5 separate regions of the Homo sapiens genome follow, and regions 2, 3, 4 and 5 are each linked to region 1. The links come from fine-mapping of genetic effects on gene expression. A gene starts in region 1. Each other region holds a variant in brackets. All regions are shown on one strand. Distances are from middle to middle.

Region 1 (6,774 bases):
TAAGTTTTCACCGAGGAGCAAGAGACTCATTCTCTGAACAGAATAACTTGTAGAGAGACAAGGGAATGCAACATAAAGACAGTTTCTGATTACATCTCCTTAAATTCTGCTTGTTCACTGGTTATAGAGACTTAATCTGGAGATCAATTTTTAATTGTTCTAGTGTTTTGCCTTTAAAGGCAAACTAAATGTTGTTGTGATATTTGAACAGTATTTTGTACTGACAAAAACACATTTTAGGCCCATGGATGTTCTACCTTCGTCTCTATTTGTATTAGTCCGTTCTTGCACTGCTATAAAGAAATACCTGAGACTCAGTAATTTATAAAGAAAAGAGGGTTAATTTGCTCACAGTTCTGCTGGCTATACAGGAAGCATGATGGCTTCTGCTTCTGGGGAGGCCTCAGGAAACTTACAATCATGGCAGAAAGTAAAGGGGAAACACGCAAACATGGCCAAAGAAGGAAGATGAGAGAGAGAAGGGGGAGGTGCACACCACCCACTTTTAAACGACCAGATCTCGCGATAACTCACTCACTATTACTAGGATAGCACTGAGGGGATGGTGCTAAGTCATTCATGAAGGGCCACCCTCATGATCCAATCACCTCCCACCAGGCCCCACCTCCAACAGTGGGGATTACAATTCAACATGAAATTTGGTGGGGACATAGAACCAAACTATATCACCATTTGATAAGCAGCCTAGGGTTCTTTGAGGTCGGTTTTGTACAAAAAAAAAAGGGACTACAAGGGTCTCTGTTTGTTTATAAAGTAATAGTTGCTTTAGCAAAATTACAAATCTACAAATCTACTTTCTCTTAACCTTTTAAATTCAAATTACATACTGTTTTAAACTATTTACTCACCCGATAAAATTTTACAATTACTGTAAGGAGGCACTTTTACTGTTTAGTTAATTCTCCTAAACATTTCAAGCAACTTTTACAAATTTAATATTTGACTTTCTTTTCAAGTACTTCAATTCTATAACAAAACTCTAAGTAATTCTTATAAATATAGTAAGTTAAATTCATTTTCATACCCATTTCACCTGAAATTGAATTGTACATAAATTTTATATACTATTTTACATATAAAGACTCTATGTTTTTAAGATTAAATATAAGTCATTACTTATTACCTTATTACATAAGTTAAATAAAAGCGTAAATCAATTAGCTGATTACTTTTTTTTTTTTTTTTGAGACAGAGTCTCACTCTGTTGCCCAGGCTGGAGTGCCGTGGCACGATCTCCGCTCACTGCAACCTCTGCCTCTTGGGTTTAAGCGATTCTCCTCCTCAGCCTGCCGAATAGCTGAGACTACAGGAGCACGCCACCATGCCTGGCTAATTTTTGTATTTTTAGTAGAGACAGGGTTTCACTATATTGGCCAGGCTGGTCTCGAACTCCTGACCTCAGGTGATCCACCGCCTTGGTCTCCCAAAGTGTTGGGATTACAGGTGTGAGTCACCGCACCGAGCCACACATTTTCACTTTTTTAGAAATGGGGCCTACGTTGCTCAGAACTCCTAGCCTCAAGGGATCCTCCCACCACAGCCTGTGGAGTTGCTGGGATTACAGGTGAAAGTCACCATGCTGGCTCACATTTTAAGTTGGAATCACAAAACTAATTTCTTTTGCATCCTAGTGAACTAAATTGTCGTAAACATTGTATGTGCTTATACCAACATATACACGTTATTCTTAAATTTAATCACAAACTTTAATGTTAAAATATCAGTGTATCTAACAATCTATGTTATTTTATACCTAAGTATTTTTTTGAGATGGGATCTCACTCTGTCGACCCCTTTGGAGCGCAGTGGCACAATCATAGCTCACTGCAATCTCCACCTTCCAGGATCAAGCGATCTCCCTACCTCACTGGGACTACAGGTAAACTTTTGTATTTGTTTTTCTATTTCTAGAGATGAGGTCTCCCTGTGTTGCCCAGGCTAGTCTCAAACTCCCAGGCCCAAGCGATCCTCCTGAATAGCTGGGATCACAGGTGTGCGCCCCTACGCCTGGCTAATTTTTTTTTTTTTTTCTAGAGATGGAGGTCTCACTATGTTGCCCAGGCTGTTCCCCAACTCCTGGGCTGAAGCTATCCTCCCGGCCTCTCAAAGTGCTGGGATTACAGGCGTGAGCCACTGCTTTCGGCCCTTAATTCTACATTAGCCAGAATTCAAAGGCATTTACCCACTTAAGAAAATAGGGCACTCTCAGCTTGTTGAGATTCACAGTACACTGATAATGCTTATCTCACAGAGAGATATTCCTGAAAATCATGATTTTAAAGACTGCGCCATATGCTGGCATGTCTGCACCAGAATTTCCTTTGCGCCTCCCTGTTGGTTTGCTCCACTTTTTCACTGAGTCAGACCGTTGAACACCGTGGACACACTGTCTTGCGTTTCCGAATATTTCCTAGAATACGGACGTTTCCTAAGACTCACGATAAAGATTTTCTGATCGTCTCTCCAAAACCTTGCCACCAATTTGCACTCCCACGAATCCTGTTACCGTGACTATCTCGCCATGCCCTCCCTAGCACTGAGCGTGATCTCTAGTATCATTTTCCATCGTTGCTAATTTGAACATGAGCAGATGGAGTCCTATTATTTGGGGTCATTAATTTCGTAGCAAGTGCAGTTGAAGGTGTTTTGCATGTTCATTGTGCAGTGCGCGCCGTAGTCTGCACAGTTTGGCCGGCAGGTGGGATGAAGGGCGGGGCTGGCGGAGCGCGCCCGCCGCCTGGTAGGCCAGTTCGGAGCGGAGCCAACGCTATCCCGGGCCCCACGGCCAGGGGGCGCTGCGGCCCCCCCAATCCCCCGCCCCGTCCGGGCTGGGGCGGAGGAGCGGGCGGGGACCAAAGGTTGGTGTCTTTGCGCTCGGACCTTCGCCAGAGGGGCCGGGACATCATGACGGTGGGAGCCAGGCTCCGAAGCAAGGCGGAGAGCAGCCTCCTGCGCCGCGGGCCCCGAGGGCGAGGGCGAACCGAGGGGGACGAGGAGGCGGCCGCCATCCTGGAGCACCTGGAGTACGCGGACGAGGCGGAGGCGGCGGCCGAGAGCGGGACGAGCGCGGCGGACGAGCGGGGCCCGGGGACCCGGGGCGCGCGGAGGGTGCACTTCGCCCTCCTGCCCGAGCGCTACGAGCCACTGGAGGAGCCGGCGCCGAGCGAGCAGCCCAGGAAGAGGTACCGGAGGAAGCTGAAGAAGTACGGCAAGGTAGGGGCCCTGCGCCACCACTGCCCGGGGGGCGCGGGTGTGGTGTCCCGCGGGGGAGCGGGAGCCGGGTCCTTACCATCGACTCACCCAGTTTCTCCGGGCTGCACCTGCGACCCCTCCGCCCCCGCTCCCATTCCCTCGCCGGAGGGAAGCCGCGAGTTGCGAGTCGTGATAGAAACTTAAATCGGGGGTTGCGCTGGGTGGTCCCTGCTGTGCCTGCTATTGCGCTCCTGGCTTCTTAAGAACATTCTCAAGGGGCTCCTACCGCGGTGGTTTTTATGTAAGATCAGGAATCAGTTTCCTGATTACAGATGGGAATACTGAAGCGTTAGCGCGGCAGGTGACTTGGAGAAGGTGGCCCAGTTGGAAAGAAAGAAATTGCAACCCAGTGTATTTGTTTTCCAGTAACATCCCCTCCAGGATATCCCACTAGTTGAGAAATGTTTGGGTTACTCTCCCAAATATTCCCAAGGTTATTTCCCGAGCCTGGGAGCGCAACAAATACATAAATAGGCGCTCGTTGAATTTTTCTCGTCTAGCCAACTATCAGTGTACTCTGGGGCCTTCAAAACATTCTGCCGTTTGTCTCGGGGAGATGGGGTTAGGAAGAATGAATATGGGAGAAAATGACAGTTTCCTTCGCGGAAATCAAAGCGCAGATGCAGTTCCCAGGTGTCTCTGCATGGAAACAGTCGAAGCTGCTGCCGGAAGCTCTGCTGGCCTGGACAAGGCCACCCAGAATAAAGTCACAGAAGTTACTGTGTCCTGGCCAAAGGCCACGGGCCCCATCTGATTTATTGTCTATTTATCTGTGTTGCCCAATGCCGTCTTACACCTGAAGCCATTCAGTCTCCATGCCTGGGAGCTTAGGTTTATCATCCTCTTTAAAGGTATGTCAGCAGCTTCTGGAGCAGAATACAGGCAGGGGTAAAACTATAAAGTTGGGTCTTTCAGGCTTAGAGCCCTGCTAGGACGATTCATCTCTGCTTTGGGTCCCAGTTGAGCACAAAGAAGCCATCATGTCCCTCTCCATTGGTGAACTGATACTGCAGAAACCTCAGCTCAAGGACTAGGACTTGAAGATATTTTGGGGGCACTCATTATGCGTCAGGCATTGTGCTGAGCAGTAGAGATGCGAAAATGAATACAGTGCAGCCCTGCCCTAGAGAAGGGCACAGCCTCCCAGGGAGACACTGACATAGCTGGCTCCCCCCGCCCCCGGGGGGGCTTCAGGGCACAGAGCTCAGGCAGTTCACTCCTCAGCGGTGAGCTTGTAAACTCAGGGAAGTTTTCAAATCACGGTGACATGAAAACTGGGCACAGAAGGATGAGTTAAGATTTCACCAGATAACAGTGAAGTGGTATGAAGTAGGCACACTTCATCCCCACTAGAACGGCTACTCCAAAAAATGTCCAAACAAACCGAATAACAAATGTTGGCGAGAATGTAGAGAAATTGGAACCATTGTACATTGCTGGTGGGAATGTAAAATGGGACAGCTGCTGTGGAAAACAATTTGGGAGTTCCTTAAAAAGTTCAGTGTAGACTTATTCTGTGATCTAGCAGTTCCACTCCTAGGGATGTAACCAAAGAATTGAAAACAGGTACTCAAATCAATGTTTATATACACATTTTAATGGAATTATTATTTACAATAGTCAAAAGGTGGAAACAACCCAAATGTCCCTAAATGGATGAATGCATAAACAAGTGTGTTATATACATACAATGGAATAGTATTCAGCCATAAAAGGAAGGAAATGTACTAATCCATGCTACAATATGATGAACCTCTAAAAATATTATGCTAAGTGAAGTAAACAAGACCCGCAAGATCACATATTGTGCGTATGATTCCATTTGTATGGAATGCTTAGGATAGGTCAACCCATGGAGATGGAACACAGATTGGTGGTTGCCAGGGACTGCGGGAAAGAGGAATGGAGCCCATCTGCTTAATGGGTAATGTGTTTTTTCCTGGGGATGATGAAAATGTTTTGGAACTAGATAGAAGTGGTGGTTGCACAACAATGTAAATGTACTAAATGCCACCGGGCTGTACGCACTTTAAAATGGTGAATTTTATGTTATGTGAATTTTGCCTTAACTAAAACAAACAAAAAAAACAAGATTTCAGTGGATAGAGAAGTGGTGTCATCTCAGGTAGAGGGGCCATCACAAGCCCAGCTGTGGGCATGAAAGCTCTAGAGTGTTGCACGCTAGTTCAATGGACCCAGGAGGCCAGGTGAGAGGATGTCGTCAGGTTAGGGTTGGATCTCTCCTTTCTGCCCTTCAAAAGTGACTTCAGCTTCTACTTTCTTGGAGCCACCTGAGAGGGTCACCAGGCTCAAACATGGAGATATAAAGCAGGTGACCCCTCTTTGTTCCCCGAGACCCCAGCTCCCCTCTGAGAGAGTAGTTGGGTAGAAAGCTCTACTCAGATCAAAGAATTCCAAATGCACTCTCTTAAATGACACTGAAATAGTGGTTGAGAGATATTTTATGTTTCTTTGCATTTCATTTCTCAAATCTGTGTTTTTAACAGTGTTCCAGTTAATGAACTATTTTAGTAGATTTTTTTTCCCTAAATTACAAAGTGACAAGTAGCTTTTAAAGTATAACAGGCTGAGCAAAATGGATGTACAAATACCAAAAATGTCACGTTTAATGCAGGCGATTGTCATTCTGATCTTGTTTATAATGGATCACTCTTGATTGTTAAGCTTGTTCCCAGAGAATATGTTTTTCTTTTGTTGTTTCAAACATGTAAGTAAAATTCCCCCAGTGATTCTTATCACACATTTAAAGAACTGTATCTCTTAGCAACATCACATACCCACACATGCGCATGCCCCAGCCCAGTGTCTCTTTGAGACATCAACAGGGTAATGTCCAGGAAAGCAGTGTCTAGAGAAGACACAGACATTACTTGGTTCTTGCAAAGCTCCTCATTTAGCGGGAGAGGTACCAAAGGAAACACTCAGCCTCTTTCTACATGCTCAGGATACAGTAATGAGCACAACAGAGTCCCTGCCCTCCTTCTGTTACTGTGAGGGACCCTGTAATTTAAACTATTGAAAGCTCAGCTGGGTGTGGTGGCTCACACATGTAATCCCAGCACTTTGGGAGGCTGAGGCGGGTGGATCACCTGAGGTCAGGAGCTGGAAACCAGACTGACGAACATGGTGAACCCTGTCTCTACTAAAAATACAAAAAGATTAGCCTGGCGCGGTGGTGCATGCCTATAATCCCAGCTACTTGGGAGGCTGCAGCAGGAGAATCGCTTGAACCTGGGAGGTGGAGGTTGCAGTGAGCTGAGATCGCGCCATTGCACTCCAGACTGGGCAACAAGAGCAAAACGCGGTCTCAAAAAAAAAAAAAAAAAAAAAAGCTCAAGTAAGCCAGAAGTCATAGGAAATTATAGTCTTAAGAAACTTTCCCAAACAGACAACAAAAATATTGGGTTTATCTATCACCACCACAAACCTAAATTGCTATGTAATCAAAAGAAGCAGATGTTATTTAGCAGTAATAATAGC
Region 2 (5,601 bases), 22 kb after region 1:
CCATGCCCGGCTAATTCTTTCATCTATTTAGTCACTCAGACATTTAACAAATGTTACCTGACACCTGCTCTGCACCTGTCACTAGGCTGGGACAGTGCACAAGCAACCAGGGGCATGGTGCCTGCCTCCTTGCCTCCTACTGAGGGGCAGACCAAGGATAAAAGACAAATGAGTAGTCAGCTGCTATGGGGGAAGCAAATGAGGAGGCCTTAGCCTCCGGTGGATGGGCAGGGAGGCCTGTGGGAGGACTTGACAGCCTTGGGGCAGGCGCTCTGGGCAGGGATAAGAGCTGCGAGGTTGTCAGAAGGGATGCCTTCAGTGCCTTCAGGAGGGTGGGGGCTCAGCGTGGTTGGGAAGGGAAGCCAGTTTCGCTGGAGAGGGGAGAGGAAGGGAGTGGGGGTGGGAAGTGGAGGTGCCTTCTCCCCACTTCCTGTAGGCTGTATTGACAGCGAGGGGAAGTGAAGGGGAAACTTTTGATAGGCTCTAAGTAGTGGGGAGGCGTGGCAGTAGGATCCACTCCATGGTTTGAAAAGATCCCTCTAACTGCTATGGGAACAGGCTGGCCTGGGGTGTGCCTTGCTGAAGCAGAGAGGAGTGGAAGGGGCCTTGGGTGGTCCAGGAGCAATGGAAAAGAGAAAGCCCACTGGAGCCATATTGAGGAAATGGGTGCATTGGCTCAAGCCTGTAATCCCAGTGCCTTGGGAGGCCAGAGTAGGAGGATTGCTTGAGGTCAGGAGTTTGAGACCAGCCTGGGCAACATAGTGAGAACTCTGTCTCTAAAAAAATGAAAAATGTTTAGCTGAGCATGGTGACATGTACCTGTAGTCCCAGCTACTCAGGAGGCTGAGGCTGGAGGATCCCTTAAGCCCAGGAGTTTGAAGCTGCAGTGAGCTATAATTTTGCCACTGTACTCCAACCTGGGCAACAAAGAGAAACCCTGTCCCCAACCCCTTTGCCCCCCTACCCCCCAAAAAAGGAAAGGAAAGAAAACAGAGGTAACAAAATTTGTCTATGTAAGTGTGGGACTTAGGGAAAGCGTGGAACCAAATAATTCTCTGGGATTTTGGTCTGAGCGACAGGGAAGGCACCAGCTGGAGGAAGAAACAGGAGAATGTGGAGACTTTTGAGCCCAAGGCCAAGATTACTGTTTATTTGTTTAATTTGCACAATGCCTCTATGCTGGGCCAGAAAGACAATGTGCAAAGCCAAGCTCTGGGGTTTTCTGCTGCAGCCAAAGTATTTCCTGTGCCCTTGTCATTTTTACCTTGGAACCTGTACAGTCACATGGTTGGCCCCGTCCCTGACCTTGTCCTCCCTGGGGGAGACAGAGACTTACTGTACACACACTCCCCATTGGTGTCTCCTGGCTCTGGAGTCTGCTTCAAGGCACATTTCAGGCCCTCCTGAAGGGGACAGAAGTGGTGCCTTTTGTGCATATAAGGCAGAACTGAGTGGAGGAAATTAACACGCGCGCCTCAGTAAAATTCAGGCCCTGCTAGGTGCTCAGTATCACGTCATTTAATCCTCATAAGAGCCCAGTAACATAGATGTTATTATCCTTCTTATTCAAATGAGGAAGTGAGACCGAGAGGCCTCTCCTTGCACAAGGCCCCACAGGAGACATCTCAGGCTGGGTGGATTCCACACCGTTCTTGGTCATGCCTTCCCTCCAGATAGATCCCGAAAGGCTTTTTCTGCTCTGGTTCTCCCACTCCCCTCAACACACACATACATTTTATGCTTGTCATCCAGGTGGACTTTACACTAGGCAGTTCCCCTTTCCCAAGCACTTCTCTTCCCATTTGAGGGTCTGTGGGTTCCCCATGTTGATTTCTCCAAAACTTAGGGAAGAAACAACTTTGTGGCTTCCAAATACAGTATTGGGTTCAGTGAAATCCCCCTCTCCTTAGGGAAATATGGGCAGCAAAAAAAATGTTTTTTTTGAGACGGAGTTTCCCTCTTGTTGCCCAGGCTGGAGTGGAATGCAATGGCGCGATCTCAGCTCACTGCAACCTCCACCTCCCGGGTTCAAGCAATTCTCCTGCCTCAGCCTCCTGAGTAGCTGGGATTACAGGCTCCCGCCACCACGTCCGGCTAATTTTTTTGTATTTTTAATAGAGACAGGGTTTCACCATGTTGGTCAGGCTGGTCTTGAACTCCTGACCTCAGGTGATCCACCCACCTCGGCCTCCCAAAGTGCTGGGATTACACGCGTGAGCCACGGCTCCTGGTCGGGCAGCAACTTTTATGCAGCGCA[C/A]CCCCTTGTTATTCAGTTAAGGGGTGATGTTTCAGGCAGAGGCTGAGGGAAGGGAGAACTGCTCCTGGGGAAATAGAGTTTAGATGGATCCGGATTGGCTGGAGCCATAGGCTCACACTCTTAGAGATGATTGCTCTTGCGGGGAGCCAGCCAGGTGAGCTTGGGCACAAAGATCTCTAGGGGCCCCTGCACCCAGGATAACACTGCGTGGTGGACCCAGACGTGCCTGCAGATGAGTTACTTTAAACCTTTCAAGGCTTTAAATGTCCTAAAAGTGTTTTTGTTTGATTACTATTTATTGTTCGTCTTCTGAATATTTACTCACAGAAGATTTGAATGGAGGAAAGAGGGATATGAAAAACACTGGTAATTCCACCACTCAGACATACGGTGATGGACATTTGCTAGATCATTTGATGCCTTCTCCAGCACACTGTGAAGTGACTGTGTGGAATGAACCATAATCTTCTATTATTGCTTGTTCGGGAGGCCTCCAGTGTTCTCTTCTGGATAGATCTCTGCAAGATCTTTGCTTCCCAAACTGCACACCACTGTGCTGTGCTGGAAGCATGAGAAACCAGACGACAAACGGGGTCTGCGGGCTTGGAGCTACTGTTTATGTGATGGAGGAGGCATTTTAAATCTATCTGGAAAGGGTGGATTACTTGATAAATGATGATGGGACAATTCGCTATTTATGTAAAAAATAATAATTTAAATAGATCCCTATATCATGCCATATTCTCACCCAAATTTCAGATAGAACTGTGGGTTAAATTTAAAAAAAAGTGTGTGTGTAATATAAATTATAATATATGCAGAATTGAAACAAAACACTTGTAAATTAAAAGGAAAAAAAGAACATTGCAAATACATCCTCAATAATAATAGAAATGCAAATTAGCACAAAAATACACCATTATAACCTATTCAATTGACTTAAAAAAATCCATTGCTTCCTTATACAAACCCTTGGCTACAGCCAAACTTTCTGAACATGTCCTTCACAGTTTTTTTTTTTTTTTTGAGACAGGGTCTTTCTCTGTCGCCCAGGCTGGAGTGCAGTGGAGCCATCTCGGCTCACTGCAACCTCCGCCTCCCAGGTTCAAGAGATTCTCCTGCCTCAGCCTCCTGAGTAGCTGGGATTACAGGCGCCTGCCACCACACCTGGCTACTTTTTTTGTACTTTCAGCAGGGACAGGATTTTGCCATGTTGGCCAGGCTGGTCTCAAACTCCTGGCCTCAAGTGATCCGCCCACGTTGGCCTCCCAAAGTGCTGGGATTACAGGCGTGACCTACCACACCCGGCCATGTCCTTCACATTTCCATCTTTTCTGCCTTTGTCCATGATGTGATCAGCCTGCAGGACCACACGTCTAGGTCTTCTGTACTTTCCTACTTAGGAATTTTCACATTTTCAGGCCCAGCTGAAAGCTTTTTCTGAACCTCTCCCTATCTCCCTCTTCCTCTGGCTAGAGGACCCCTCCCACCTCTGAAATCCCTTAGCTCTGAAAGTGTTACTGATTTTACATTAGCTTATTGAACTGCAGTTTGCTTTATATTTGCATGCAAGGAATCCATTTTCCTGACTATAATGTAAGCCCTGTTTCTAAGTTGCTGCTGTATCCTCTAACAAACATTTTTATATAAGGACAGTCTTTTTAAAAAAAAACAGATTTAGTGGGATATCATTCACATATCATACAGTTTACCCATTTAAAGTGTATAATTCGATGGTTTTTACTATGTTTTCAGGGGTGTGCAAACATCACCAAAATCTAATTTAGAATGTTTTCATCACTTCAAAAAGAGACTATGTACCCATTAGTGGTCAATCCAAATTTTCTCCCAACCCCAGATACCTACCAACCAACTTTATTTTTCTATGGATTTGCCTATTCTGGACATTTCATATAAATGCAATAAAACAAAATGTGGCCTTTGATGACTAGCTTCTTTCACTCAGCGTGATGTTTTCAAGGTTCATCCATGTTGTAGCATGTATTAGTGCCTCATTTGTTTTCAGGGCTGAATAATATTCCATTGGTTGGATACATCACATTTTGTTCAGCCATTCATCCATTGATATTTGGGTTGTGTCTGTGTTTTTGTTTATTATGAATAATTTTGCTATGAACATTTGTGTACATATTTTGTGTGGACATGTATTCCCATTTCTCTTGGGTATACAACTATGTTTAACATGTTTTTCAAACCATTTTTTTTCCCTCTGTTCTCACATCAACACAGTAATAATGAACACAGAAGACTTCTATGACCTCAAAATATGTGGGTATTTCTCTCTACCAGCAAGCAAGCAATGAATTCTGTAGATGACACCCAAATGGTCATCCTCTAATTCAGTGCTGGTACTATCTACTTGGAGATAGTGTCAGATCTCACAGTTTGAGGGATCAGTCCCCTGAGACTGTGTCCCCCGCTTTAGACCCAGTCACAAGTCTGGGATTCCAAAACTTCTGATCAACCATCTTTAAGTTGGGGTTCCCATGCCCCCCTGGATTAATTTGCTGGATTAATTTGTGTTTGATTAGTTTGCTGGAGCAGCTCTCAGAACTGAGAAAAACAATTGTGTTTACAGGTTTATTATAAGGGCTATTACAAAAGATACAGATGAAGAGAGGCATAGGGTGAGGCATGGGGGAGGGAAAGCAGAACTTCCATGCCCTCTCCTGGCATGCCACCCTCCAGGATCTCCATGTTCCAACTATCTGGAAGCTCTCTGAACCATGTCCCTTTGGGTTGTCATTGAGGCTTTATTACATAGATACGGTTGACAACCATGTAGAAATGTGATTGGACAAAAAGTGCCTGATCTAAACCCAGTAAGCTTGTCTATTCAGACTTTTTGTGGCCTCTCTGCATAGCATTCCTTTCCCCAGGGTTTGAGGCAGGACTGCTTCTGGAATGAGAGTCTTTTGACCCACAGTTAGATTAAAGGCTTGCCTTGGGAAGGTGTAAAGAGGACAGGAGAAGGTCAGAGAGAGAGATTCTATTTCCTGAGGCCTGCTTCTGAGGCTAAAACACCTCAACATTATAGTAAAAGACTGTAACAAGGGCTAGTGGAGTTATTAGCCAGAAACCATAGAGGAAAACCTAAACATATAATCATAATATCACAAGTTATGAATGGAATTGCTGGGTTATTGGCAACTCCATGTAGAACATTTTGGAAAAACTGCCAAATTTTTTTCCATAGTGGCTACATCATTTTACATTACCATCAGGAATGTATGAGGGTTCCAGTTTATCTACATCTTCACCAGCATTTATTGTTATCTTTTTTATTATAGCCATCTTAGTGGGTGTGAGGTGATATTTCACCA
Region 3 (6,774 bases), 36 kb after region 1:
GGAGGGGGTGTTCCCAGACCTCAGCAAATTGTCTTATTGGTTTGAGCCATAAACATAGCTCATGCTGGTACCAAGCACCGATAGGAGATTTGTCAAAGGTCAAGAGCACCTCCACTCAGAATCCCTCGCGGTTACCAAAATGCGAACCCCCAAAATCTGAGACAGGTCTCAGTTAATTTAGAAAGTTTACTTTGCCGGCGGGGGCGGTGACTCACGCCTGTAATCCCAGCACTTCGGGAGGCGGAGGCAGGCAGATTAGGAGGTCAGGAGATAGAGACCATCCTGGCTAACACAGTGAAACCCCGTCTCTATTAAAAACACAAAACAATTAGCCAGGTGTGCTGGCGGGCGCCTGTAGTCCCAGCTGCTGGGGAGGCTGAGGCAGGAGAATGGCGTGAACATAGGAGGCGGAGCTTGCAGTGAGCCGAGATTGCACCACTGCACTCCAGCCTGGGAGACAGAGCGAGTGTCAAAAAAAAAAAAAAAAAAAAAAAAAAAAGAAAGTTTACTTTGCCAAGGTTGAGGACACGTGCCCGTGACACAGCCTCAGTAAGTCCTGAAGACATGTGCCCAAGGTGGTCAGGACACAGCTTGGTTTTTATACATTTTAGGGAGACCTGAAACATCAATCAATATATGTAAGAAGTACATTGGTTCCATCCAGAAAGGTGGAGACAACTCAAAGCAGGGAAGGGGCTTCCAGGTTACTGGGAGGTGGGAGACAAAGCGTTGCATTCTTCTGAGTTTCTGATAAGCCTTTCCAAAGGAGGCAATCAGATACACATCTATCTCAGTGAGCAGAGGGATGACTTTGAATAGAGTGGGAGACAGGTTTGCCCTGAGCAGTTTCCAGCTTGACTTTTGCCTTTAGCTTAGTAATTTGGGGGTCCCAAAATGTTCCTTTCTCAGATGAATTCCACTGTGACTATTTTTTTTCTTTTGTCTCTTGTGCTTTTGGTGCTGGCTAGGAAGGCTTAGCCTAATCCAAGATCATGAAGATGTACACTTTTATTTTTTCCTAAGAGTTTTAGTTCCTATAAAACTATATAAAAATATAGTTTTAACTCATATTTAGGTCTATGTTCTATTTGGAGTTAAATTTCTGTATGGTGCACTTTGAATGTGCATATTCAGTTGTTACAGCACCATTATTGAAAAGACAATTCTGGCCGGGCCTGGTGGCTCACTCCTGTAATCCCAGAGCTTTGAGAGGCTGAGGCAGGTGAATCATCTGAGGTCAAGAGTTTGAGACCAGCCTGGCCAACGTGGTGAAACCCCATCTCTATGAAAAATAAAAAAATTAGCTGGGTGTGGTAGTGCACGCCTATAATTACAGCTACTCGGGAGGCTGAGGCCTGAGAATTGCTTGAACCTGGGAGGCAGAGGTCGCAGTGAGCTGAGATCCTGCCACTGCACTCCAGCCTGAGTGACAGAGGGAGACTCTCTCAAAAAGAAAGAAACAGAGAAAAAGAAAAGATAATTCTTCCCCCACATTAAATTGTTTTGGGATTTATGTGAAAAATAAGTTGAAGGCTGGGCGCTCGGACTAATGCCTGTAATCCCAGCACGTTGGGAGGCCAAGACTGGAGGATCGCTTTAGCCCAGGAGTTCAAGTCCAACCTGGGCAACATAGCAAGACTCCGCTATGTATATTAAACATACATATAAGGGTTTGTTTCTGGGCTTTTAATTCTATTCCAATGAACTATATGCCGGACTGTGTGACAGTATAAAAAATGTCCTAATATTTGTAGTTTTGTAGTAAGTTTTGAAAGTGTGAGTTCTCCATCTTTGTGGTTTTTTTTTAAATTGTTTTACTCTCCTTGGTTCCTTGCATTTCTATATAAATTTTATTATTAACTCATCAATTTTCACGAAAAGAAAAGCCAGATGAGATTTTTGACAGGATTGCATTGAACCTATAGATTTGGGGAATGCTGTCATCTTAATATTGTCATTCAATCCATGAAGATTAGATGTTTTTCCATTTATTTAAATTTTCTTTAATTTCTTTTAACAGTGTTGTGTAGTGTTCAGAATATGAGTTTTGCATTTCTTTTGTTAAATTTATTTTTAAGTATTTTATTATTTTTGATGCTACTGTAAGTAGAATTATTTTTTAAATTTCCTTTTCAGATTATTCATTTGCTGGTGTATAGAAGTACAATTGATTTTTGGATATTGATCTTGTATTCTGCTATCTCACTAAATTTATTTACTGGACTTAATAGTTTTTTAGTGATTACTTAGGATTTTCTATATACAAGACTATGATATAGTAGAGATGGTTTTACTTCTTTTTCAATATAGATCCTGTTTTTTCTTTTTCTTGTCTAGTTGCTCTGGCAAGAGACTCCAATACAATATTGAATTGAAGTAGTGAAAGCAGACATCCTTGTCTTGCTCCTGATTTTAGGAGGAAAGCATTCCATTCTGTTTTTCACCATTAGGTATGACGTGAGTTTTTCTTAGATGGTCTTTTTCAGATT[A/G]AGGAAGTTCCCTTCTGTTGCTAATTTGTTCAGTATATTTACCATGGAAAGATGCTGGGTGGCACAAACATGGCTCACTGCATCCTCAACCTCTTGGCTTCCAAGTAGCTAGGACCACAGGTGTATGCCACCAACGCTCAGCTAATTTTTCAATTTTTAGTAGAGACAAGGTCTTGTCATGTTGCCCAGGTCTGAGTTAGTTTTGATAATTGGTATTTTTCTAGGAATCAGTCAGTTTAAACTAGTTTATCTAACTTGTTGGGACACAGCTTTCATAATACTCTCTAATAACCTTTTAAGTTTTGTAAGATTGGTAGTGGTTTCCCATCTTTCATTCCTGATTTTATGAATTTGAGTCTTCTCTCTTTTTCTCTTGTTAGTCTAGCTAAATGTTTGTCAATTGTGCTGATCTTTTCAAAGAACAAGCATTTTTGGGTTTCATCGCTTTTCTCTATTGCCTTTCTATTCTCTGCATTATTTATTTCTGCTCTAATCTTTATCAACCCCTTTCTTCTCCTTCTTTTAGGTTTAGTTTGCTCTTCTTGGTTTTCTTTGAGGTAGAACATTAGGCTACTGAGTTGGGATTTTTGGGCATTTATATCTCTAAGCTTCCTGCTAAGCACTGTTTTAGCTTTATCTCCTAAAGTTTTGGTATGTTGTGGTTCCATTTTCATTCATCTGAAGGTATTTTCTAATTTCCCTTGTGATTTCTTGTTTGCCCATTGATGATTTAGGAGTGTGTTTGATTTTTACATATTTGCGAATGTTGTAAATTTCTTTCTGGTATTGTCTTTCCAGCTCCCAGAGGCTGCCACATTCTTGGGCTCATGCCCTCTCCCGTCTACAAAACCAGCAATCACATCACTCCAAATTCTGCTATCATTACATCTTCTTCTCTGACTCTCTTGCCCCTTTCTTTCCCTCATAAGGAGACATGATTACATTGGGCCAACCGGGATAATCCAGAACAATCTTCCCATCTCAAAATCTTTAACTTAATCACATCTGTGAAGTCTCTTTTGCCATGTAAGGTAACATATTCACAGGTTCTGAGAATTATGATGTGGACATCTTTGATCAGTTATACTTCTGCCTACCCTATCTTCTTTTCCTTCTTTACTGTGAAATATAACACACGAGAGCTGAGGCTGATCCCTATAGACAGCTCTCCCAGAGAAAGCACTGGTCTTCTGCAGACCTCCAAGAACACCGGCTGTAGGGTAGGCTGAATGAAGCCAATCAATCCTGGTAGAACTCACTACCGGATAGATGTACATTTGCAACTGCAAGGATTTGCCTGTAGTTCCTGGTTATGCAGGTAGGGGGCTGGTTCTCCCCCAGCCATAAACACTGAGGTGCTAGAATTGGGCTGGAAACCCAGGGTCTCTCTTTTCAGCTTATAATTGACTGCCAGCTACTGATCATGACAGAGAGGAGCTGGTTCTTCTCCCATTCATGCAGCCTAAGAGCCCCAGAGCCCAAGGACCAACGCCCCACTCTAGGTGTCTGTTTTCCACTCTGTTAGATCACTGTGCACTGCCCCAGAACATGATGGATAGTGGGACCCCTTTCTGCTGTCCTGATGTCAGTATTGGCTTGTCATTCTCCTTATTTTGTCATTCTCCCAACAGTACACATGTTGAGAGTGCAGGAAACGTAATAGTGGACAGATCATTATAAAGTGAACACCTCTGTAACCCCTGAACAAGCCACAAAAAAGAATGCTCCAGGCTCCAGAAGTTTCCCCCTGCTTCTTCCCAGTCACATCACCTACTCTCCCTTCTACATGAAACCACAGCCTGGTTTTATGGTTATTACCTGATTGCGTCTTTTTGTGGTTTCACCACCATCTTGTGTATCCCTTGACATCGTGTTTTAGTTTTTCCTGGTTTTGAACTTTATAGGAATGGAATCACACAGTATGTATTATTTTATTGTCTGGATTCTTTGGCTCATTTTTAAAAAAAGTTTAACTCGTGTGTGTGTGTGTGTAGCTATAGTTTGTTCATTTTTATTTGCTGTACATTCATTTGCTGAATAAATACACCACAACTTATCTATCTATTGTGCTGTTGAGGGACATTTGGGTTGGTTTTGTCTATCACCAATAATGCTGCCCAAAACATTCTTGTATGTGTCTTAGTTTTCTAGTCTACTATTTAATATTATTGGAAACCAGGCCTCTGTTTTTATAATGATTGCTGTTATCATTGCCAAAGACTCCTCCTTTTAGTTATTGCTTCCTCAGCACTTTAGGATATTGCAAAAGAAAGCAGTCAGCTTGGCCCAAAGAAACCTGGAAAACATTGATGATTTCATTGTGGCCGCTTTGAAGGCAGGATTGTTTTTCTCTTGTTTACCATTAGATCCTCAGTACCTACCAGACATAGTTTGTTGCATGAATGAATTATGGAAGTGGGCTTTGTACCATGTCAAGCCAAGCTAAAGCAGTAAACCTTTCCTGAAGTTTCTATAGGTGAGACCTATATTTCCTTACTATAATATTCTCTCCTAATTAACCCACTGTCTTTATTATACCACATGCTCAGCAGAGTCACGATAAAGTGAGCCAGAGTGGGGAGTTTTTGATGCTTCTAATCTGAGTCCATATTGGCTTTTGGAATTTTTTCATTAATCATCCTAATAATGACTAGGAACATTCCAAGCTGTGGACTTGGGCTTTCTGTATGATACTTGAAATCCACACGGGCAGCTGGGCGCGGTGGCTCACGCCTGTAATCCCAGCACTTTGGGAGGCCGAGGTGGGCAGATCATGAGGTCAGGAGATCAAGACCATCCTGGCTAACACGGTGAAACCCCATCTCTACTAAAAATACAAAAAAATTAGCCAGGCATGGTGGCGGGCACCTGTATTCCCAGCTACTCGAGAGGCTGAGGCAGGAGAATGGTGTGAACCCGGCAGGCGGAGCTTGCAGTGAGCCGAGATCGCACCACTACACTCCAGCCTAGGCGGCAGAGCGAGACTCCATCTCAAAAAAAAAAAAAGAAAAGAAAAGAAATCCACATGGCCTTCCTCAAGGAGTATCAAAATCCTAAGGTACACACTTTCCTATACATATGATTAGGGAAAGCTGGTCATTTTTCATTATTCTCAAATTGTAAAAACTTTGAACTGGAAGAGAACCTCTAGAAGCTGTGCATTTAGATTTGGAAAAATGAAGGATGTGAGAGAAAACGTTTGTCATCATGATGGCTTTTAATTAGAGGAACTAATTGGGTGGAAGATGGACTTTTAGGTCTCAAAAACTAATTATTCATGCAGCGAAAGGAAGGGAACAAGGCCTAAATGAGGCACATGTACAAACTCTCTCTTCTTTTAACTGAGTATCTAGCATAGTCACCACAAGTCTAATTGGGCATTTCCTTTTAAAACTTCTCTTAATAGCTGCCCTGGTACCAGAGTGAGCTCCCCATTCAAAATATGCTTTTCAGCCTTTCTCAACAAGAATAGAATCTTTCTCTTGACTCCACACCAAAAGTTATTTTTCCTCCCTTTGAATCTCTATATCACTAGGTTCCAACCTCCCACATGACCTTCATCACTTTCCACCTTGTATTATATTTATTTATTTATACATTTATGTATATGTATATTTTATACACTTGATTCTAAGATTGTAGGGAGAAGAATGCTCCCAAATTTGTTTTGCAAATGTAAGAGTCTTGCATATAATAGATGCTCAGTCATAATTCATATGTATCAATATTACAGCTTGTGGTGAGCAAACAACACTAAAAGAGATAATCGTGGGGAAGATGCTGATGAGGCCAGGTGGGGTGAGCATTACTAAATATATTGATTCCCCATTTTGATTACTGAGAGACAAAGAAAGACATTTTCTCTCCTCCTTCTTCTTCTTCTTCTTTTTTTGAGACAGAGTCTTGCTCTGTCACCCAAGCTGGAGTGCAGTGGTGCCATCTTGGCTCCCTGCAACCTCCACCTCCCGGGTTCAAACGATTCTCTGGTCTCAGCTTCCCTAGTAGCTGGGATTGCAGGTGCGTGCCACTACGCCCAGCTAAGTTTTGTATTTTTAGTAGAGATGGGTTTCACCATGTTGGCCAGGCTGGTCTCAAATTCCTGGCCTTAAGTGATCCACCCGCCTTGGCCTCCCAAAGTGCTGAGATTACAGGCATGAGCCACCACGCCCGGCCAAGAAAAACATTCTCACACTGTCAAAGGCTCAAGTGAGTTATCCAAAGCAAAATAATTTATTTGAAGTTTTATATTTGTCTTTTACATATACACATACATATATGTAGGTAC
Region 4 (6,056 bases), 28 kb after region 1:
GGATGCATGCCCATGATATAACCACACAAAGTCCTGATGACATGTGCGCACGGTGGACTCATGGAGAGCTAAAATGTCCGTGAATATCAAGCAAAACAGGAATTAACTGCATGGACTGTACTCATCTTTTTGACTTATTGCTTAAAACATTGCTGATCCTTTGTTTTGTTTTTCGGAGTCTTGAAACTTTTCTTTTGAGCTATTGACAGCTTTTAACAATTGAGTACACTCCTATGAACAAAATTTGGAGCATATTTGTTTCTCTCTACCTGATTTCTGAAGAATTTGGAAACTATTTGTGAGTATTCTTAACTTACGACAATACAGTTATTTGCATAAGTGCAATAAGAATCTGTTCTCATTTGTAAGAGGACACAATTGGAGAAACTGGTTATTTTACCAAGGCTTTGACTGGAATGGCATGCTTTCCTTAAGGAATAAAACCTGACTTATGCAGCCAATAAAAGCCCTTGGGAAAACTGGCCTCATACTTTGTCTACAGAGTCCCTGTACAGGGTTTCTGACCTGTCGTTAGTAAAGAATGTCACCTTCTGACAGGCCCAGGAGCCCTAGGTTTATCTTGGAACCTCAAGAGGAGAGGTAATTCACCCAACTCATAGGTATTTGGTGGTGGCACAAATCCATCGCGGGGTTCGGCTTTAAAAATGTCTTGATATTTCTTCTATGGAACAAAGTTTCATCAAAGCCAATTTTAAAAAGCCTATGTGAAAAATAATTATTCTTGCTGTACTTTATACAAATAATCTGGACAGGTAAAATAAAGCAGGTTGGTCCTACCATGATTTGTCTTTAGTGAAAATGGGAAACTGGAGAGAGAGAAAAAATATGTTTCAAAAACTATAGTACACTTGTTGTTAGATTCTAGTCTTGCCTAATGTTTTTCAATTTTTATTATTTTCTACAGTTTGGGCTGAACTCTAATTTTTCCTGGCTACAAGTCTACAAAATAACATTTTCAATATTTTTTTTCTTTCTTTTCTTTTTTTCCCCAATTTTTCCTAATTTGAAATCACTGAAAACTAAGCTGTGTTTCTTAAAGCCCTGCAAACTGAAGCTAGACAACTTAAACTTCAGAAGAAAATAACAGCATCCCATTTACATACATAAGCCACTTTCCAGGATCATTCTTTTGTTTGCTGTTGTTTTTCTCCCTTCCTCCCCTTATTTTCTCTTTATAGGACATGAGACTTCATAACCTGCTAAAAATGAACTTTTGGGACCTACCTGTCTAGGAATAAACCATCCTTGCCATGAGAGATCAGATGAAACCTGAAATCAGAGACTCATTTTCTTCTAAAATACTTTCTCTAAAAGATTTTAAAAAAGAATAGGGGGGAAGTGTGAAAGGAAAATCTTGGGGCCCCCAAATTACTGAACTAAAGGTAAAAGTCAAGCTGGGAACTGGTCAGGGCAAACTTGCTTCCCATTCTATTCAAAGTCATCCCTCTGCTCACTGAGATAGATGCGTATGTGATTGCCTCCTTTGGAAACGCTTATCAGAAATTCAGAAGGATGTAACCCTTTGTCTCCCACCTCCCTGTGACCTGGAAGCCCCCTTCCTTGCTTCGAGTTGTCCCCGTCTTTCCGGATGGAACCAATACACTTTTTACATATATTGATTGATGCCTCGTATCTCCCTAAAATGTATAAAACCAAGCTGTGCCCCTTTTTCCACTGTTCTGATGTCACAATCTCCAAAGTTATTAGAAACCTGCATTCAAGGGCACCAGTTATAGCTGATTATAAAACAACTGTCTAAACAGTACCAAAGCAAGAGAACAATTGTCTGTGGATGACAAAATGTTTTAGGGCCACCATAGTCAAAGACACAATTGGCAAGAAAGTTTGTTACCTTTGTGGCACATAATAATTTTAACGTGACAATTATGATTATTACTGATAATGTACACTTAGTCATATCAGAATTACAGGAGTTGCCCATAATTTTGGAACACATACAAATAACATATTTACACAAATATGGCCCAAAGAAAACCAAACACTGTTTCATACTGAGGGAAGAGAGAGACCCTCTCCTATTGTTTGATATTGTTTTACACTCAGAAAAGGAAAGAGAAGCGAAACTAAAGGCAGGTAGCCTGGCGCCTAGGAACCAGACCCAAAACCAAGGAACCAGATCTGAAACCAGGCCTGGGCCTGCCTGACCTAAGCTGGGTAGTTAAAGATCGACACCTGACCTAGCAACTGTTGTTATCTATAGATTCCAGACACAGTATGGAAGGACGTTGTGAAACCTCCCGTTCTGTTCTGTTTCACTCTGACCACTGGTGCTTGCAGCCCCTGTCACGCAGCCCCCGGCTTGCTCAATTGATCACGACCCTCTCACGTGGACCTCCTTAGAGTTGTGAGCCCTTAAAAGGGACAGAAGTTGAGCACCTGACGAGCTCGGATTTTAAGACGCTAGTCTGCCGATACTCCCAGCTGATTAAAGCCATTCCCTTCAGTGTCTCGGTGTCTGAGGGGTTTTTTCCATGGCTGGTCCTGCTACATTTCTTGGTTCTCTGACCAGGAAGCGAGGTGATTAATGGACGGTCAAGGCAGCTCCTTAGGCAGCTTTAGCCTGCCCTGTGGAACATCCCTGAGGGGGACTCCAACCAGCCGGAGCGACACGGATCCTGAGAGTGCTCCCGGGTAGGCATTTGCCCCGGTGGGACACCTCACCAGAGCAGTGTGTGGCACGCCCCTGTGGAGGATCAACGCAGTGGCTGAACACCGGGAAGGAACTGGCGCTTGGAGTCTGGATATCTGAAACTTGGTAAGACTAGTCTTTGGAACTTGCCCACTCCATTTGAGTGGAAGCATGGCCTGATCACCCATGGTGTGCCTTTATCAGCACTTTGGTATTGGTTTTGACTTGGTTTGAATTGCTTGATAGGACTGGTCTTCGGAACTTGCCCACTCCATTTGAGTGGAAGTGTGGCCTGATCACCCACGGTGTGCCTGTACCGGCACTTTGGTTTTTGTTTTTGACTTGACTTAGGTTGCTTGATACTTTGGTTCTGGTTTTGACCTGGCCTGGATTTCTGGATACTCTGATTTTGGTTTTGATTTTGGTTTGGTGTAAACCGCAAAAGTGTGTGTGTGCCCTTTTTACCTGTTCTTTGTTTTGTGGTGTATGTGTGGTGTGAGTGTGGTGTTTTGTCTTGAAGAAGCATGGGTCAGGCACAAATAAGCCCACCCCGCTAGGAACTATGTCGAAAAA[A/T]TTCAAGAAAAGATTTAAGGGAGATTACGGTGTTACTATGACACCAGGAAAACTTAGAACTTTGTGTGAAATAGACTGGCCAGCATTAGAGGTGTGTTGGCCATCAGAAGGAAGCCTGGACAGGTCCCTTGTTTCAAAGGTATGGCACAAGGTAACCTGCAAGGCAGGGCAACCAGACCAGTTTCCGTACAGAGACACTTAGTTACAGCTGGTTTTAGACCCCCTTTCCCAAAACAGTAGTTAAGTGAACAGCAGCATAAGCGGCTGGCAGAGGCAAGGAAAGACCAGCAGAGAGAAAGAGAGGAAAGAGACAGAGAGAAAAAGAGGCAAAGAGAGAGAGGAAGAGACAGAGAGACAAAGAAGGAGTCAAGAAAAGAGAGAGGCAGAGAGAGAGGCAGAAAGAGAGGAAGAGACAGAGGCAAAAGGAAAGTCAAAGAGAGAGAGAGAGAGAGAGAAAGTCAAAGAAAGAAAGAAAAAGAGAAAGAGAAATATACAAGTAGTTAAGAAAAAAACAGTATACCCTATTCCTTTAAAAGCCAAGGTAAATTTAAAACCTATAATTGATAATTAAAGGTATTCTCCATAACCCTGTAACACTCTAATACCACTTTGTTGTCAGTGTAAACAAGGGCATATCCCGAAAGCACTGAGGTCTTCCTATCAAAAATCCTTAATCCAGTAACCCGTGGATGGCCCAGATGCCTTCAATCTGTAGCGGCAGCTGCTTTGCTAACGGGAAAAAAAAGGGCCATCTATACTAATTCTAAGTTAATTTAGACTAAACGAGGTCTTATTAATAGCAAAGGATAACTGAAATCCCAAACTTACAAGGTTTTCAACAAAAGTAAAGTTTGCTAAAGTTAACAGTGTAACATGTATTACAGTAACTTCTAATCTTGTGGCCGTAGACAATCTAGTCCACAGACATAAAGAAAGTTCGCTTTAAAAAAAAAAAAAAGAATGGTTATCTTCAAAAAAAGAAAAAAGGAAAAAAAGGGGGAGGCAGAATTTACATAAAAGAGTGTTATATGGTAAATTCTTGTCCTGAAATAAATTAACTGGTTGTTTAAAGAAAGAAATGTTTATAATAAGTCAGAAAGTTGAGACATGTCGAAGAATTGTCTGTGAAAGTCATGAAAGAAAAAAGGTTATAAAAAAATTTTATGCAAAAAATGTTGTATAATTTAAAAAGCAATAAGGCCTCCTGAGTAGTATTGAAGAAACAGTTTTATGTGCAAGGTGTATAAGAAAAGTAAAATATACCTTTGGTAAAAGGAATATAAGGAGGCATAAGAATGTGGATTTTTACCTACAGTAAAAGGTTAAAAAAATTATTGTTTTGAAAGTTTAAGCAAGTTTTAAAACATCAATTGTAAAGAAAATTCTGTGTGTAAACATATTAGCTAAAGTTAAAAAGGTATCATCCAGTTTTTCTGTGAACTGGACATTAAAGTAAAAACACAACAGGTTTTTCTTAAAGCACCAACCTGGTCTTTAACAAAAATTATAAAAGGTTAAAAAGAGTCTATAAAATCTTACCTTATGGTCAAACATGAAAATTTGGATAAATATGTCTACAAGGTTTTATTAAAATTAAATTTAACATTAATAACACACTAATATAAAGGTAGAGTTTAGCTTATCTGGTATAAAAATCATACAAGAAGCATTATTAAATATAAAATTGTGTTTAGCTTTCTTTGGTCTAAAAACTAATAAAAATAGGTGCTAAAGGAAACATGCATTTTACTAGAGGATCATAGAAGTTAAAGACTTAAAACAAACTTTGGCAATTAAGACAGCACAACAAGATGCAAATGCCTGGTTGGAATGGATCAAATATTCCATCTGCACGTTAAACAAAAGCAATTATTATGCTTGTGCACATGACAGGCCAGAGTCCCAGATGGTCCCCTTTCCACTAAGGTGGTCCTCCAGTCGACCAAGCATGGGCTCCATGGTAGCTCTTTTCCAGGATTCTACAGCCTAGAGTAATAAGTCGTGCCAAGCTCTCTCTGCTATATCCCAATGTCCGGCACCCCGTAGGTCAGCCCCCGAAGGCCATCCAGCTTCTGTCTCCCAACGCTAAGTTCACTTCGTGTCTCTCATGACAGGGAGGAAACTTAGCATTCCTTGGAGACCTGAAGGGATGCAGTGAGCTTAAGAATTTTCAAGAACTTATCAATCAGTCAGCCCTTGTTCATCCCCGAGCGGATGTATGGTGGTGTTGTGGTGGAACTTTACTGGGCACTCTGCCAAATAACTAGAGTGGCACTTGTGCTTTAGTCCATTTGGCTGTCCCTTTAACCCTGGCATTTCATCAACCAGAGGAAGAAAAAAAATAAGACATCATAAAGCGAGAGAAGCCCCTTATGGGTCTTTCAACTCTCACATCTATTTAGATGCAATTGGAGCCCCGCAAGGAATACCAGATCAATTTAAAGCTTGAAATCAAATAGCTACAGGACTCAAGTCAATATTTTGGTAGATGACAGTCAATAAAAATATAAATTAGATAAACTACATCTATTACAACCAACAGCAACAAGCTTTTCATGAGTTAAAAGAAAAACTCAGGTCGGCCCCAGCCCTGGGGCTACCTGACCTGACAAAACCTTTTACACTCTGTGTGTCAAAAAGAAAAAAAAAGGCAGTTGGAGTTTTAACCCAGACCGTGGGGCCCTGGCCAAGGCCAGTGGCCTATCTCTCAAAACAACTAGACGGGGTTTCCAAAGGCTGGCCCCCATGTCTAAGGGCCCTGGCAGCGATGGTCCTGTTAGCACAAGAAGCAGATAAGCTAACTCTTAGGCAA
Region 5 (6,774 bases), 320 kb after region 1:
TCAAAAGACATCCTGAATATTCATCATTTCTCCTTTTATGAGCACCTTGGCAATTCTCTCTAAAGGCGAAGGCTGCAGTAAATTCAGAAGTGCCATTTAGTGAATACCAATCTATCTTCAATTCAAGTCTAACTTTTTTCCTGCTCCTCGGCACACTATGGTAGCTCCTGAGAACTCAGTGAATGCAGGGCATTGTCTCAGCTTGGGGGAGGCAGGATTGTTTGTGAAAATCCAAAGCCTGAAGCGGTGGTCTGCTCCTCAGCCTGCTTGCCTGAGCTGTATGCACTTACCTTGCATTCTCTGCAACTCCTTTCCTGGAAGCTGGAAACCTTTGGGGAAAATGGTAAAATCATGCTGGAGTGCTTGGCTTGGTGACAGGGCTTTTAATCAGTAGTTGTAAATTGGCAAATATTGTTTAGCTCTGTGCCTGTGATAGTTCCCTTAGGTGTGCTTGAGATCCATCACAACATTCCCCAAATGTGTATCCCCCAGGATACTGATGTGGGTACTTGTTCAACGGTGGTAGCTACAGACAGAGACAGAAGCCCTCTGATTATTTTTGTTCATTCGAACAGTTCAGGCTGCTTGACCCTGAGTGTGACTACAGAAGGTGCAGCGGGAGGTGGCTGTGATAGTCTCTGCTGTGGAGCCACTCTGTCTCCCCACAGGCTCTATGCTGGTAATTGAGCCTTTTCTCCCACCCAACTTCAATGTCATCCACATTAACTGCACATTGTTCATCGATTTCTCATAGTTTTTCTCTCCTTCCTGAAAAAATTGGGGCCTGAAATCTCAATCTCCATTAGCTTTTGTACCTTTTTACTCTAGAACAGAAACACATGTACTTATTATTTATCTGTTTATATTAGTATGTTCTTGAAATTTAGACTTTCAATTTCATCTCTCTCTCTCTCTCTGTCTTTTTTTTTTTTCTGAGATGGAGTCTCGCTCTGTCACCCAGGCTGGAGTGCAGTGTTACAATCTCAGCTCACTGCAACCTCTGTCTCCCAGGTTCAAGCGATTCTCCTGCTTCAGCCTCCCAAGGAGCTGGGATTACAGGAGAACGTCACCACATCCGGTTAATTTTTGTATTTTTAGTTAAGACAGGGTTTCACCATGTTGGTCAGGCTGGTTTTGAACTCCTGACCTCAAATGATCCGCCACCTCGGCCTCTCAAAGTGCTGGGATTACAGGCGTTAACCACTGTGCCTGGCCTTCATCTCTTATTCTAGAGACATTATTTCTTGGACAAAGTCAAATAATTGTCAACCCATAGGTTTGGGCCAACCCATGCTTGGGTGTTGGCCCAAAGTGTTTCTTTCCCTAGTGACCTGCCTTTCCTCCACATAGATTGTTAAACTTTCCTCTGAAGCCAAGAGGCTATGCCATTTCTCTTTCTTCCTTTATGCACCCCAACTGTCTTAGTGAATTTAAACAGCTTTTGAGCCCATCACAGAGTTTGCACACCATGGCTCACAGGCCACATCTGGCCTGTGGACCTGTTTTCCTTGGCCTTTGTATTGTTTTGAAATGTTTTCAATTAGTTGCCAACATTTACAAATTGGGAAATTTTACATTAAAGTGTCCAGACTTTGGGAGCCTCATGAAAAATCAAAAAATCTGAAAACCTTGAACCTGCATTTCTATTCAACAGTTGGCTGGGACTGAACAGATGGGGAAGTGTTAGGAGCTGTGCATGTACTCACTAGTTTGCCACAGTCCACACTACTGCTAGTATTTTATGACTCCTCTGTTCACTCTCTCACTGACCTGCCTGGCTGCTGTAGGCATTTGTGTTTGTGAGGACTGGTCTAATAGAAGACAGAAAATCTGCCTAGGAAGATTATATTTTCTGTTTTGTTGCCCACCTCCTCCAATTATTCTTCTTATAGGAAAGAAGGAATCAAAGGGATCTAAGGAAGATTTGTGACTTTTACCAATTTAGGAGACCTTATTGGAAGTTCACTAGTTTAGGAAGGAAAGATGGAAGTCTCACATTTTGGTTTATGATTATTATTTTTCTCATACTCAGAGACAGCTCTTGAACTTAGAATTATGCAATCTTGCAGCAGGAATTGAAGCAGGGTGCATAAATCAGGAACAGACTCTAAAGCAATATTGGAAGAATACAGTTCAGAAGCAATCAGCCTACAGAATAGGAAATGGCGTAGGTCTCATCTGAGGCTAGGTGTGAGTGAATTCCGTCTGGCCAAAACGTAGTACCCACCAAGGGGAGAGAAAATAGATAAAAGTGGCTAATTATCCCACAGATAAGATTAAGGATATTAAATTGCCTTCTAAATTCAGGGTGTTTTGTGAAATTAAGGGGCCATTCATCTTGTTCTTTTTATTGATTAAGAAGCAAGAGAAAAGCTTTTTAAATAGTTTGCTTCCTTGTGTTGAATAGTGAGTGGTAGAGAAAGTTGGAACCTCTTATACATCCTACAAATGACAGGCTGGTGCAATGACATGGCATGACTTTGAGAATGGTGCATAAGGAGAAGAATCATATCAGTGCTTACAAGCAACCTCTTCAAAATTTTGACTTACTCTTAGATTGTTCTTCTGCTGAAGTGACAATGCATTTGGGTACTCTGTATATATACCAATAGGGAGGTGGTAAGTGGGGTAGCTTTGCAAACTTTCCTCTGGACCTGAAATTCCAGCATCCAGTAAAGTAGGAACTTTGCATCTCCTGCTACCTGAACTCTATGTGGTCTATTTGTGGATTGGAAGGGTTGGAAGGAATACTTTGGACCTCTGTTGGTGTCAGATACGATGACAATTGAGCAGTCCTCCCAAAATTTGCTGTCTTGTTTTTATTTCATGTTATGCTAAGTCAAAATCCATATGTTGCACTCATATTTTAAACACAGGTCTACTTCTTGCTTTTTGAATTTGGGAACATTCTGATTATCAGACCCACATCCTCTCCAGGGCACTTAGCCTTGTGACACTATAACTCCCAATTTTTGGAAGTGACTCATAACGTCTGCTTATACTTCTCATTCAGTGTCATGGTTGGGTCCCTGTTGGCTTTTGATTTTAAGTGCCCGACTTGTAATCCGCTCAGCCTGAGAGAGAACTTAGAAATCGGAAGTATTTTATGTTCCAGGCTGTAGACCTTATGAGGTGATGACAGTGTTCTATAGGGATATCTGTTCTGCTTTTCCTATTGAAATCAGTGAAGGAACTGGAGCAGAGTGCTTAACAAGGGCAGAGAGCAAATGAAACTGCCTTGTGATAAAGCTGAGAATGTGATGATGG[C/A]GTGTATCAGCACAGCTCAAGGAGGGGACTGGCTAAAAAGCAGGTTGGAGAAAGAGGGAGGAAGTGAAGGTTTCTACACATATCCAAGCAAGAGAGAAAGCCAAAGGTGCCAAGAAAACCATATATATATTACATTATCAATTATATATATATGCATATATATAATTAATTTGAATAGCCCAAAGGTGTATGTTTTTAATAGGAGTGAGTGGGGGCCATTTAAAATGGGTCAAGTGCAAAGCAGGTCAAGTGCAAAACGGGTCAAGTGCAAAACGGCTGGGGCTGGGGGTCACAGGCTGGGACATCACTGGACTGAGGGGTCAGGGGTGAATTCCTGACTCAGGCTATTCTCAGCGTGTCTGCTTTCTGTTTAAAAGCTTTCTATTTGAAAAAAAAAAAAAAGACAAAAACCTGCTTTATTTTTTCCTTTGAAAAAGCAATAGCAAAAAGTATCACGGAATATCTTTAAAAATCAGTCCTTCTTTTAAACTTTTTTTTCTTTTTTTGAAGAGCCACTTCAATTTCTCCTATAGAAAACTTTCGCTAATAGATCTCATGAACATATTTGGTTCCCTTATTCCTCTCTTTTTGTAACTCTCTTGTTTATGTTGCCAGTCATACAGATGACATGTCGTTCTGTTGTGAATTCCCCATTATGTCGTTAGAATGAACATCCATTCTGCCCATTAACATGTAGTCTTTATATCTAAAGCTCTGGTCTCTAGAAATGTAACCCAATGAAAATAAACGCGTTGCGTTTTGGCTGAAAATCAACATGCCTTCATGATCAGTAAGCATTAATTGTTTTTGGCTTTGACAACAAATAAAGCTATTTCAAGGTTTCTTTAAACAGGCCTTAAATTTGTTGGAGGGTGGTGTAATACTTAGAGCATCACAATAAATATTTGTCTGTTAGAACACTCATTCATAAATGAGTAAATATGCCTTATGCCAGGAACTGAGGATGGGCCCTGGAGATACAGGAGGGAATTCCTTGTCTTCTAGGAGCTAACACTTATAATTTTGAGACTATAATTTTATCTTTATTTGGGATAAGAAATAATTACGCATTACATGTTAGAACTCAGCGCAGTGCAAGTACATTAGAGACATTTCTTAGCCTGTGTGCAGTGATTGGTTAACCCACCACAACTCAGGCAGGTCTACAAAAGCTGGATTGGTTTCTATTTAGTCTCCATGATCATTAACTAGAAATTGCCACTGAGCAATTGCTTTTGTTATATTTCCTCATGGGAGTTCTAAATTAAGGTCACTCTATACTAGCTTTACAGTCTTGGGGTTAATATAAGGAACTGGAAGTTTCTGCTTCATGCTTTATGTTTCTCCATTTTGAGACTCATTTAGAAACTTAAATTTGGAAATATATAGTCCTGTGTATTTAGCAAAGGATGCAATTTATGTCAATGGATATTTCACAGAAAAATAAACAACCTTGTGTCAAGTAGGTTTGGTAAATATTGAGTAAAACTATCTTACCTTTTAGATTGGTGCAAAAGTAATTGAGGTTTTTGCAATTAAAAATAATTGTAAAAGTAAAAATACAATTAAAAGTAAAAGTAAATCGATTTTTTTTAGGGTAAGACTTCTCAAAGACTTTAAGTGCTAATGTGCATTGTGAATCTTTAGGATTGGGTTAAGCAAAATTTTTCAAATATTTTTGGCTGCACAATATTTATAAGGAGGTTTCTCAAAGCACTTTCTGTGGGTCTAGTGTTTTATGAAATCTATGTTGGAAAGAAGTGCAATGACCACACGCTCCAATCCAGAAGACTTAGACTATAAAGAGGCTCAATGACTTGCTGAAGGTCCTGAAGACAGCCAATAGCTGCTGGGACAAGAACTCACCATTTTGTTAGCAGGCTAATGTTCTTTCCACCATGGCATGGCATTCCTTTTTATTCCTTTCCTTTTTTAGTACCTTTTCCCCACCTTGATGGCTTAGGCCTACTGGTAGCTTGTTATGTTTTCCATGTCATTTAGGTCCCTTTGAAATAGTAAGAGTGGCTCTCTCAGTTCCTTGTGTTCTGATCGGATTTTTTCCCTCGAACAGCTAAAAGTTGAGCACATCAGCTAGTTCTAGGCAACACCTCCACTCCCTCACCCTTAACCTGTCCTGGAGGAGGCTTTCACTTCAGTTCCTGCTGCTGCTTTATTATAAGCATGGATCCCTTGTTAATCCATCCCATCCATGTCCTGTCTTCCCACTAAGCTCAAGGTCAAGATATACTAATTTGAACTCATCATTAGATTTGTTTGTGCTCTTGGGTCAATTATGTTTGTGATCACTCTGAGTTCTATTCTCCTAAGCAGATTTTGTTGTGTTTTGTTTTGTTTCATGTTTTTGGAGACAGAGTCTCACTCTGTGGCCCAGGCTGGAGTGCAGTAGCATGATCTTGGCTTACTGCAACCTCCGCTTCCTGGGTGCAAGTGATTCTCGTGCCTCAGCCTTCTGAGTAGCTGACAGGCACGTGCCACCTTGCTTGACTAATTTTGTGTGTGTGTGTGTGTGTGTTTTCAGTAGAGATGGAGTTTCACCAAATTGTCCAGGCTGGTCTCAAACTCCTGACCTCAGGTGATCCACTGCCGCCTTGGCCTCCCAAAGTGCTGGGATTACAGGCATGAGCCACCATGCCCGGCTTCTCCCAAGCAGATTTTAACCTTGCTACACATAGGATCTTCCTCTGATCTTATCACTGTCTTCCATCCCAATTCCATTAGGATCCGCTTCAGTATTTTGAACTCTTCTGGCTGCTGCAATATGTTATTAACTTATGTGATATCCATCTGTAATACATACCAGTCTGTGACCATTAATGAGAAAAGAAAGTTGGTGATAAAAATTTTGTCACTGCCAAAAAGAAGATTTGCATCACTTATTTACCCAGAGGCTGTCAATGTAATTAAAAATATGATGAGGTGCTGACTGAGACACCAAATAGCTGACTGGGCAATAATTTTAGTGATTTCACTTTACTTTGGTTATTTACTTAGCTGATTGATTGTTTTGTGACATTTTATAAAAGAAAATACCTATTAAATTTCTATTCATTTGTACGTGTTTGCTGGCCTTTTCTTTCTTCAGTAGTTGTATCCTACTGTTCTCAATTCCAAGTTTTAATAAGGTTAGGGTAGAAAAACTATTATATAAGTAGAACCATGAACTATTTTAATGCAACCATTTGCTTAACAAATAAAACTAAACTTACCTTCAGAGCGAGATGAAATTTCTTTTTCAGTGCTTCTGCTGGAGATATTGCCTGATGAAGAAAAATGGTCCTGTCTTTATCAGGAGGTGTTGTCCTCCTATACCCAAGCAAGATTAAAAACTAGGCCTTCAATCCCCACAAATGGATAAAGAAATTAAAAAAAAAAAAAAGATTCCCATACAGCCTGGCTTTTTATGTAATCCTTTACTTCCCTTTGGAGGAAGGTCCTGTTCATTGGCTAGGACCAACAAGAGACATATTTAATTGTTAATTATTTGTC

The links. PIP is the estimated chance that this variant, and not a neighbour inherited with it, causes the effect.
Region 2: its variant is the best candidate, but not a certain one, in a credible set for the expression of C1orf115 in lymphoblastoid cells (TwinsUK, PIP 0.68).
Region 3: its variant is the best candidate, but not a certain one, in a credible set for the expression of C1orf115 in whole blood (TOPMed, PIP 0.68).
Region 4: its variant is the best candidate, but not a certain one, in a credible set for the expression of C1orf115 in nasal epithelium (TOPMed, PIP 0.81).
Region 5: its variant is the best candidate, but not a certain one, in a credible set for the expression of C1orf115 in nucleus accumbens (GTEx, PIP 0.68).

The regions. Positions count from the first base shown.
Region 1 is chr1:220,687,478-220,694,251 of GRCh38, forward strand. It overlaps C1orf115 (chromosome 1 open reading frame 115), which reads left to right and starts at 2,886. Exons shown (of 2, transcript NM_024709.5): 1 at 2,886-3,234. The coding sequence starts at 2,926. RefSeq lists a silencer at 2,717-2,956.
Region 2 is chr1:220,710,013-220,715,613 of GRCh38, forward strand. No RefSeq gene overlaps it. Among named protein-coding and RNA genes, the nearest start is that of C1orf115, 22 kb to the left of the region's middle. The variant C/A (reference allele first, on the strand shown) is at 2,258.
Region 3 is chr1:220,722,978-220,729,751 of GRCh38, forward strand. No RefSeq gene overlaps it. Among named protein-coding and RNA genes, the nearest start is that of MTARC2, 22 kb to the right of the region's middle. The variant A/G (reference allele first, on the strand shown) is at 2,490.
Region 4 is chr1:220,715,974-220,722,029 of GRCh38, forward strand. No RefSeq gene overlaps it. Among named protein-coding and RNA genes, the nearest start is that of C1orf115, 29 kb to the left of the region's middle. The variant A/T (reference allele first, on the strand shown) is at 3,245.
Region 5 is chr1:221,012,382-221,019,155 of GRCh38, forward strand. No RefSeq gene overlaps it. Among named protein-coding and RNA genes, the nearest start is that of HLX-AS1, 140 kb to the left of the region's middle. The variant C/A (reference allele first, on the strand shown) is at 3,268.